Regions from separate parts of the Homo sapiens genome. Here region 1 is linked to region 2. The links come from fine-mapping of genetic effects on gene expression. Tissue or cell type: whole blood. Region 2 holds a variant in brackets; the other region holds the start of a gene. All regions are shown on one strand. Distances are between the middles of the regions.

Region 1 (5,388 bases), 220 kb before region 2:
AATTCTAAAACACTAAGACAATGCTTATCCTATTGCCTCCAAAATAGGATTTTGTATTTTAAATGGTTTACCAAAAAATGTATCTTATACTTTTGGGTAAACTTTTATTTTGTTATACAACCAAAAATCTTAAAACTATCTTAGTACATTAACGTTTTAACAGGTCAACTTTTAGTCTTTATGAGCAGTTTTCACGAAGTTTTACTCGACATTTAAAAAATGTAGTTAACATACTGTAGATGCTTCAATATTGCTGCTTATTCTTTGTAATCTTATTTGGCATAATATAATCATGTTCAGAGTTATTTTAAAGTAACTTAAAGTGAACAGACGCACTCCCTCCTCCCCCCACCCTCAATTAAAAAAAAAAGGAAAACAGAAAGAAAGAAAAAGAACAAAAAATAAGATTAGGTTCTAGGAGGAGGGAAACCCTAATCCAAGTGTGGGGATACAGAAGTCAGCTTTTTGCACCCATTCTCCATGCTACAGAATAAAATTTGAGACTACAGCCAAATATTTTCTAAAACCTTTCAAGACGCTCCAGTGGATTTCTGGATTTGTTCCTTTAAAATCAGGATACTCTGCCTTTGCTCAGGGGGCAGCATGGCAATCTGATCTGCAGTCAGTTGAAGAACCTGCATGATCAAAGCTGCCTTCTCCTGATCCTGTGGAGTGACCTGGCTCTGCCCAGGACTAAAACTGCTAGGCTGGCTTCCACCTTGCTTGCTTGCCCCCTGTATACCTCCTCCTTGTATACCTCCTCCTTGTATACTGACTCCTTGTATGCCTGCCCCCTGCATCCCTCCTCCTTGTATGCCTGCTCCCTGCATGCCTGTTCCTTGTATGCCTGTACCCTGCATACCAGCTCCAGGATTCCCCACCCCTGAAATGCCTGGGACCTGTCTGGGTCCCTGAGGAGGGCCACCTGCCCCTATATTAATGGGACCAGGACCCTGAATTCCACCAGTCATAGGGCCTCTTGAACTGGGGACAGGGCCCCTCATCTCCAATCCTCTTGCATCCATGCCCCTTGCTTCCATCCCTCTGGTTTCCATCGCACAGGTCTCCATTCCTCTCCTCTCCATTACACGTGTCTCTAAGACCTCAGTTTCCATGGCACGAGTCTCCATCGCTCGAGAATCTCTACCACCTCTACCATCCATAGGTAGACCCCTTTGATCTATCATGGGGCCTCTGGGCTCTCCAATTAGCAGTCTGGGATCTCCTAATGGCCCTCCCCTCATCTCATGTGAGGAAGGGCCACGAGTGTCATGACCAGAGGCATGATGCATGGGGGGACCCTGATGGGGTGGACCCAGATAACCTCTGGGCTCCACTTCTCCAGTGACTGAAAGCAAAGTCCCTCCACGTGGGTCATTTGGAGCATCTCCTAACAGTCCTCGAGGAGGCAGACCACCAGGAGTCACGGGTCCGCGAGGTATAGGAGCTCTAGGATCTGACATCTGCACTTGTCCCCGCTCTAAAGGCACTGGGCCAACCCCTGGCATTCCAAGTTGGGGCTGCATTGCTCCTCCAGGAGTTAAGGAACCAGGACCAGCTCCGGGAACTGCAGCTGGTATTGGCCCTGGAGCTGGAATTCCACCCTGGATAGGAGTCTGCATCAGAGGAGGAATGTCCTTCACAGGTCTTCTAGCCAAATGCTGAGGCTGAGGAGCTGGAGGATTCTGCTGGTTCAGCAGAACATTAGGTCCTGGGCAGAGCCCAGGGCCAGGGCCAGGGCCAGGGCCAGAGACAGACACAGACTGAGATTTGCCTGGGATCAGTGGTGTGACATGTATCTTCCGATGCAGAATTTTCAGAGCAATCTCTGGATCCATGATTCTCATCACTACTTGTGCCTGCAACAGTGCATAAGCCAGTTGTGGATTTTGAAGTAACATGTTTCGAGCTTCCTGGTGGCTGTTTTGGACACAGAGCTTCATCTGCTTCATCAGCTCAAACATCTGCTCCGGGGGGAGACTGGCTACTGCTCTGGTAATCGATTCAGGGGCATCTTCTGGATCGATGGGATCCCCATAGGGTGAGTCAATAATGGGCGCTGCAGGCCCAAGGCTCTTTAACTCCTCCTTATTCTTTTCACTGGCAGCATTGTCCACCCGAAGCGCTCTCCCACTGAACTCCCGCCCATTGAGGTTCCGCATGGCACTAAGCGCGGTCTCCTGGTCTTGGTATTCGCAGAAGCCATAGCCCTTGGGTTTTCCCGTCTCTCTATCGTATACCAGCCGGAAACTGACAACAGAACCAACCTCCGAGAAAATGTCCTTTAACTGCTCCTCAGTTGCCTCATATGGAATGTTCCCCACGAACACGGAACGCAGTGATCGATCCATTGCCGGGTCTCTCACCGCCAAACTCGACATGATTCCGGTTGTGCAGACAGCCGATAGCGGATTCTTCGAGGCGTCTGTCCTCTTGCGACCGACACTTCCGCTGAGCAACGGAAGCGGCTTTCAAGATCCGGGCAGAAACTTTACTAATTCGCTTGAATCGTTCCGCTTGCCTGTGGAACCTGCATCCCACTAACAACTTATCTAATGCTTTCAGTCCCTGATCCTTCATGGTTCTGTCAGCTTCTTATTACAGAGTCGCATGATTCCTTTCCCATTTCACGTTCCGCTGACTTTCTGTGGGGCCCCAACAGCCCCACTACGACACGCTTGGTACGAGATGACCACAGTAAAGATGGCCGCATAGACTTCACCGTAGTAACTGGGAGGGGACTCTTCCCTTGACGTCAAAGGCGGTTTTGCTTCCGTTCCGCTGGCGGGAAACCGCCAACCGAAAGCGGATTTAAGGCGGCGTGTTTTTCGTTCTGACAAAGTATTTTCATGTGGCCTTTTATTATAGTATAGTTAAGCTAGATTTAAAATCACATTCCAGACTGAGGGAAAAGCGTAGTCGTTTCAGCACATTTGAGATTTGCCCCTTAAACTAAAACAGTATTATATCTCCTTTTTAGAACAACGTTTTTGGAAATTAACTGACAAGAAATATAAACTGAAGCGTGTGCCGGCTGGGCCCTGCCCCCATTCTGTTGCTTCCTATAACCGCTGTTAATGGATGGGTGGCAGACCCTTCTAGGTTTTTCCTGAGCACACGGGCAGCCGTCGTGCTATTCCTAATATTACGGTTTTCTTCCTTAATAACAACCGATTTCAATATTAATTGGTGATTAAATAAATTAGTGATTAATTAGTTATTAGTATTTTATGGCTTCAGAGTATGGAATAAAGAAATTTACTTAACTATCCCTACGTTGATTGGTTCTGATTTTTATTATATCATGCAGTGAGTCCACCACTTCCATGAAGGGAGAAACAAATAGCGGGTGTTTGTCTTCTGCTGTTAGCTTTGCAGGTAGGAGTTAAAACATATTCAGTGTGGTGTTTCCCCGCCTGCAATTCGAAGCTAGAACTGAAGCTTGGAGAGGGCTAGGTAAATTCCCAAGGACAAGCAGCTGGAAAGAGGCCAAGTCAGGATTCTAACCCAGCTTGGTCTCGCATAGCTCCAATTCTACACTGCCTTACGTGTATTGAATATATGAAATGAAGCTAGTGTGATTGAAGAAATGAATTTTAAATCTCATTTTTTATTTAAATATAAAAACTAATGTTCAGTAAGCTATTGGAAAACTTTTTTAGTATTTAGAACAACTTGGATATAGAATCTACTTTTGCAATAATAAATTGTGTTCTAAATAAAAATCATTTTGAAGAACACTAAGACAAAAAATAAAAACAAATAAAAAGAAAGTATTTCCAGTCAAAATTTAACATACTGGTTGAGGTGTGCCATACATGTAACATACATGAAAGATTTTAATGATCAAATACAAAAAAAGTAAAAATAGCCCATCAATTTTATATTTTTTATAAGTCGAAATGTAATATTTTTATATATTTGAGTAAAAAATTATTTTGAAGTTAATGTTATTCATTTCATTTTACTTTTTTAAATGTGGCTATTAGAAAATTTAAAATTATATGGATAGATTGCATTATACTTCTGTGGACTGGACTGCTCCAAGCCTGTGCTTTAATTCCAAAACAGAGAATTATTTTATTCTGAAATATGCCTCTTAAGTGGATTATGAAACTTTTAAATTTCAGCAAAAAAATTGTATTATGTATCTTCAGTATCCTATTCCAATGAATAGATTTGACATGAGTATGATGGTTTAGCTGCAAATAAGACATCCATTTACCTTCAAGTTTTTGAAACAGTTCTGCACTTAGCTGTTCACCCAAGATGCGCGACAGTTTATATTTGCAAGTGACAAGGTTCATTTACATCACCTAATAAGATTTTCCTGCTATGTCAAAGAAACGGAATAGTCACCTGCTAGCAATGTTTCCCCAGTGTGATTCTTTTATTGGGGACGAAAGGGGAGGGGTTAAGGATAGTATCATTTAAAAAAACTAAAGACAAATCTATTTTTCTTCCTTCTATACCATCACTTTACAAAGAGAAGGCATACCTTTTTTATACACATTCTGTCAAGGGTAACTTACAAGTTGAATATGTGTGTAATTGTGTGTGTATTAAATGTAGTAATCATGAAGATGGTAATGGGGTATTATAATATGTTGCAAAATTCGTAGAAGATTGCACATCTTGACAGAGTTTCTTTACTGCTGATACTGTCTAAACCAGTGGTCTTCACATGTAGCAGAACCACCTTGAGCCATGGCTTGTTAAGTCAGATTCTGCTTTATCAGGTCTGGAGAATTTGCATTTCTAATAAGCTCTCAGGTGATGCTGATGCTGCTGGTTTGGAGATCTTTAAGAATCATTGGTCCTAGGGATTGGTAGTAGATTTTCTCATTTACATCAGACCAAACTAAATTTGGTACACTCTATTAAAAGGTTTGAGGTAAAGGTTTTTAAAACATTATGAATTTACTATTAATATACTATTCTAGTACATGCTGATCTGCTACTGAAGATACCCTGGACATGAAGACTGGGTGAACAGAGAGTAGCTGAAGGACTATGGGACAAACAAGAAGGGGGAAGTTATGACTGTAGAGTGTGCTTTAGTCACAGGCTTTCCATGTTCTCTTTAGTCCCACTGTTCCAAACTAGAAGAATGGTTTGTCATGCCCCCGTTCATACAGGACCAGTGTGACCCACCATGTAATTCCATGCCCAGAACACATGAACTAATACTTATTGTTAACTCAATGTCCCCAAATCAAGAGCTCAGATAAACCTATGTATATTTCCTGGTACCAGTACATATTTTTTTATAGATCTAACTTGGAAGAACATCCATTTTTATACTGCTTTTTTATTCCCATAAAGTTTAAATTTTAGATATTTATAGCATGGCATACACTCTGAAGAAAAGTGTACATGGTATAGTGT
Region 2 (5,388 bases):
GAGTAGAAGCTGGGTAAAATGAGCCTAAAACCTACTGGGCTGCATTCCCAGACAGTTAAGGCACTCTAATTCACAGAATAAGATAGGAAGTCAGCACAAGATGCAGATCATAAAGACCTTGCTAATAAAACAGGTTTCAGTAAAGAACCCAGCTAAAACCCACCAAAACTAATACAATATGGTGACAAGAGTGACCTCTGGTCGTCCTCACTGCTATACTCCCACCAGCACCATGACAGTTTACAAATGCCACGGCAACATCAGGAAGTTACCCTAAATGGTGTAAAAACGGAAGGTATGAATAAGCCACCCCTTGCTTAGCATATAATCAGGAAATAAATAACCATCAGTATGGGCAACCAGCAGCCCTGGGGGCTGCTCTGTCTATGGAGTAGCCATTCTTTAGTCCTTTACTTTCTTAATACACTTGCTTTCACTTTACTCTGTGGACTCGCCTTGAATTCTTTCTTGTGTGATATCCAAGAACCCTCTCTTGGGGTCTGGATCAGGACCCCTTTCTTGTAACTGTATGACCTAGCAATTCTGCTCCTAGGTGCATACCCAAGAGAATTGGAAACACATGTCTATACAAAAACTTACACACAAAGGTTGATAGCATTATTATTCATGATATTCAAAAAGTGCAAACAACCCAAGTGGTCATCAGCTGATGGATGGGTAAATAAAATGTGGTATATTCATACAATAAAATATTACTTGACTTTAAAATGGGTGAAGGACTTGATATATGCTACAACATGGATGACTTTGAAAGCATTTTGTTAAGTAAATAAAAGTAAAATGACACATATTGTGTGATTTCATTTACATGAAGTATATAAAACAGACAAATCTATATATAGAGAAAGTAAATTAGTGAAGGAGGACAGTGGAGAAGGTGAGTGACTATTAAGAGTGTGGGCTGGGCACGGTGGCTCATGCTTATAATCCCAGCACTTCGGGAGGCTGAGGCAGGCGGATCACCTGAAGTCAGAAGTTTGAGAGCAGCCTGCCCAACATGGTGAAACCCCATCCCTACTAAAAATACAAAAAATTAGCCAGGTGTGGTGGCACATGCCTGTAGTCCTACCTACTCAGGAGGCTGAGGGAAGAGAATTGCTTGAACCTGGGAGACAGAGGTTGCAGCGGGCCAAGATCGTGCCACTGCACTCCAGCCTGAGCAACAGAGCAAGACTCCATCTCAAAAAAAAAAAAAAAAAAGAGTGTGGATTTCTTTTTAGGGTGATAAAAACATTCTAAAATTTGATGGTGACAATGGTTGTACAACTCTGAATATACCGAAAACCATTGAATTTATTCTTTACATGGGTAAATTTTATAATGTCTCACTAAAGCTGTTATTAAAAAGTACATATGGACTTTGATTTCAGTTGTGATAATTTCAATGAAGGAAACTTTTGGGCTTATAAGAAGAATGTGTACTTGGGGGTCTCATTTGACTTGACAGCCATGCAAATATCCTGATGGCAAAGTATAGTATGAAATTTTAAGTATTAACAAAAATAATACATGTTTTAAAAGTAGGCATGTAAAAGAGATTTGGTAGGGATGTTGTAGATACTTACACGTTGATTTAGTGGTTGAACAATATTAACTTTTTAGCATCTATCTGAGATTCTGTATTTAATTCTCAACAAAGATCTTCCTAGTTCTAATTCTCAGTGATTTTTATTTCTCTCCCTATAGAGAGGTCCCTCTCCCATATTTTGTAAGTCAATTTAGCCATCATTACATAGAAAAAAACAAATGCTTGTTCATTGCTTTAAATTGGTGTCTAGTTATGTGAACATAACTTGAGATATAAATTCCTTAAAAGCAAAACTATATTCATATTTCCTTTAACTGGGTTCCTATATGCATTTGATTAAAACAACAGTAATACCTTCCACTTATTGATGCAAACTCTGTGCCAGGCTAAGGCCATTTGTCTAATCCCATCTGAGTAATAACAATAGTACTATTCTTATTATTCCTAGTCCCAATGTGCAGGTGGGAAGACTGAGCCTCAGATAACACAGCGAATTAAATGGGGAAGTATTTTACCCTATGCAATCCGACCCTGGAATCAGTACCTTTCAGTACTATACTGCATTGTAACTTGAAAGTTTGCGGAATTAATAAAAGAAAAACTTCTCCCACCCCTGACTCTTTCTTTTAAATAGGTTGTACTTCCTTCTGAAAATATCGACTTGACTTATTTTTTTTTTATTTTTTTTTTTGTGAGAGTAATTAGCTTTTTCTCAGTCAGCATTTTAAATTTGTTGTGACAGGGATCCATTTTATGCTTTCCACGAGACCCGAAACAAAGTGTTTCTAGACATTTTATTGCCAGAATATGCATGCTTTGCTCCATGCTGCTTGTAATTCATTAAAATGTATGTGCTCTGCAAATAGGAAACCAATCTGCAATAAATCAGCTTTCTAGAAAACATTCATGGAAAGTGTTCGAAATGGTTGCTCTGTAAGAATACACAAACCTGCTTGGTATTTGTGTGATTTGCTGTCATTTATGGGGTTTGTAAACAAATAGTGGATTTGTGTGAAACTGTAAATTAGTAGCCTGCCTTCAGCATGTGTGTGAGATCTGCTTACAAAATGCCATTTGATAGCATCTGAGCAGATCACGATGAGCTCCAAATTCCTTTTACAGGGACAAGTGATGCACACTGGTCTGAATTAGATAAATTGCCCTGACCCAAGATTTTCAACTATTTTTTTTTCTTAATCCGAGACATATTTGTAGCTGCCAGAAAACCTAGCTCACGGGCTTGTACACAGTTGGCATCTAAGGCATAAATCAATGAAGAATAGAAGCCCACTCGTGCTTACAAGTAACAGGCTAAAGATAAGAAAATCAGTTGGGCTTTCAGTTTTAGCCACAGAATACAAAGCTTGTTTGTGCTAGGGAGAGTTATCAAACAACGTGGTGCAGGAGATAATGTGGGTATTCAGTTCCAGGCCTCCCCAAGACCTTTGACTACAGAGTACTTCTCTGAATCCATAGCAAGGGCAACCTACTGCTTCCCTGCGGAAAAGGAATCATGCAGTTCCTTAGGCCAGGGGGTATAAGTCTGTTTCCTGGTAG[A/T]TAAGGCTCTGAACCAGGGCAGGCAGTATTTTAGTAATGAGCATTCCTCAAATCAGTCAATGTTAATGAGGAACAAACCGTGACCAACCAAGGCTTTAGGGAGATGGCAGTTGTTGTGAGAAAGGATGTTCTGTTTGCCTCATGTTCTACGTGTTCCCTTAATTATTATGAGATTCTGTAAGTGAGCTCCTCTTCACTCTCTGGGAAGAGCTACCATTCTTTTTTATTACTTACACCTAAAAATTATTATTTTAATAAACGTAACATGATTTGTCTTGTAAATAGACCTGCTGTGCAATACCATTCTGCAGATTTTTTTTTTTGCTTTGACTTTGTGCAAATCAGTTTACATTACAGATGTTAATAATTGCTAGGCATGAGAGTGTTGTCTCTCCCTGACTCCTCTTTCCTCTTCCAAAAATGTTCTTTAAGGTCAAATTGAACAGCCCCCCACCTTTTTTTTTTAAAGTGGCTTACCCTGACTAATTCTACTCTATCCTGTTTGTTGTTTTCTTAATCCTTTTGTACAGTTTGTACTACAAAGCTGCATGCTTGATCCTATATTGCCTGGAACTTGTCTGTCTCCCAGTTTTCTGTAAGTACCTAAGCACAGGGTATGTCTTAACATATATCCCAAGTTTCCAGCACAGCAAGGATTTGTGGAAGAATTATGCCTGGTACTTATTAAATAAACAATAAATATTTGTTGAATCAGAAGTCTGAGTAGGCTTACAATAAATGCATACATGCTACCCGAGTGACCCAATGAATGAAACAAAATTGTTCTGTTTTGCATTTGGATGCTTTATTACCACAACTAGATTAAAAATGCATCAAGGACAGGGAGCATGCCTTCTGAAATACAAGAACTCATCATGAGGGCATGTAGAGTAGAGGTTGCTGGTAGGAGATTGTCAAGGATACACAATCAAGGTGGAAAACAAAGAAGGTGTGGGAAGCTAAGGACAGAAAGATCATGGGAAAGGAATAAGACTCATTTTTCTTCTATCATCCTTCTCCTTTCCCTATCCATCCCAGGGAGATATAACAAAGGCCAAACCTTTAGAAGGATATTTTGAAGAAGAAAGAAACTTTTGTAGAAGTTGTTGATTTTCCAGTATAAGGCCCCGGGGAGAGAGCTGAACTGTTGTCAGTTACTGTTCACTCCACAAGGATGTGAAGGCCTCTGATAGCCATCTTGCCGATTTCCCAGTTACAGTTTAGTGCTTGCCTATGGGAATCTCCTAATTAACAATCTTACAGTGTTCATGTCTTCTCTCTTTCTGTTTAGTTTCGTGTCTACAGAATAGAGATAGTGATCCTACATATATGGATATATGTATGCATATATGTGTGTGTTTATATATCTATCTTTATATCGCCATATAATTATAATGCCTGGGTTTGAATATTGGCAGCACCCTTTAATTGTGGTTCAATCATTCCTTAGCTATGTGATCTTGAGCAAGTTACTTAACTCCCCTAAGCTCCATTTGTTTTCTTCTGGAAAAGAAGGATAGTAATAATACCTACCTCATAGAACTGTTTCTAATTTTACTTTTAAACATAACTTTTTTTTCTCATGAGTAGACCTTATTATTTTTAGAGCAGTTTTAGGTTTACAGAAAAACTGAACAGAAAGTAGAGAATTCTCATATACTCCCTCTCTCCCACTCACAGTTTCCTCTATTTTTAACATGTTGCACTGGTGTGGTACATTTGTTACAACTGATGAACCAAGATTAAAATATTATTTTTAATTAAAGTCCATAATTTACCATAGAGTGTTGTACAGTTCTATTCTTTGGGTTTTGCCCCCCAGAATTAGGATTTTGCCAAATGAAAAATGTCATATATCCATCATTACAGTATCATACAGAATAGTTTCACTGCCCTAAAAATCCTCTTCCACCTACTTATCCCCTCTCTTTTACTGTCTCAGTAGTTTTGCTAATATACATGATATTGTGTTTTTAATTTCAAATTTCAATTATTCATGCGAGTATATAGGAAATCAATTGACTTTTATATATTAACCTTGTATCTTGCTACCTTTCTATAATCACTTACTAGTTCCAGGAGTCATTTGGTCAATTATTTGGAATTCTCTACAATAACAAGCATGTAATTTATGATTGAGGACAATTTTATTTTTTCCTTCCCCATCTGTCTCTCTTTTATTTCCTCTTACTGTCTTACTGAATTAGATGAGACTTCTAATATAATGCTGAATAGGAGTGGTGTGAGGGGACATCCTTGTCTTGGTTTTGATCTCAATGGGA

What was found. PIP is the estimated chance that this variant, and not a neighbour inherited with it, causes the effect.
Region 1: CSTF2T starts here. The variant in region 2 is fine-mapped to the expression of CSTF2T in whole blood (INTERVAL, PIP 0.95).

The regions. Positions count from the first base shown.
Region 1 is chr10:51,697,169-51,702,556 of GRCh38, forward strand. CSTF2T (cleavage stimulation factor subunit 2 tau variant) reads right to left here and starts at 2,427. Exons shown (of 1, transcript NM_015235.3): 1 at 1-2,427. The coding sequence starts at 2,381. The coding sequence ends at 531. All of the region lies in intron 3 of PRKG1 (protein kinase cGMP-dependent 1), which reads left to right. RefSeq lists enhancers at 2,115-2,694, 2,819-3,507 and a silencer at 3,261-3,555.
Region 2 is chr10:51,916,116-51,921,503 of GRCh38, forward strand. All of the region lies in intron 5 of PRKG1 (protein kinase cGMP-dependent 1), which reads left to right. Among named protein-coding and RNA genes, the nearest start is that of CSTF2T, 220 kb to the left of the region's middle. The variant A/T (reference allele first, on the strand shown) is at 3,107.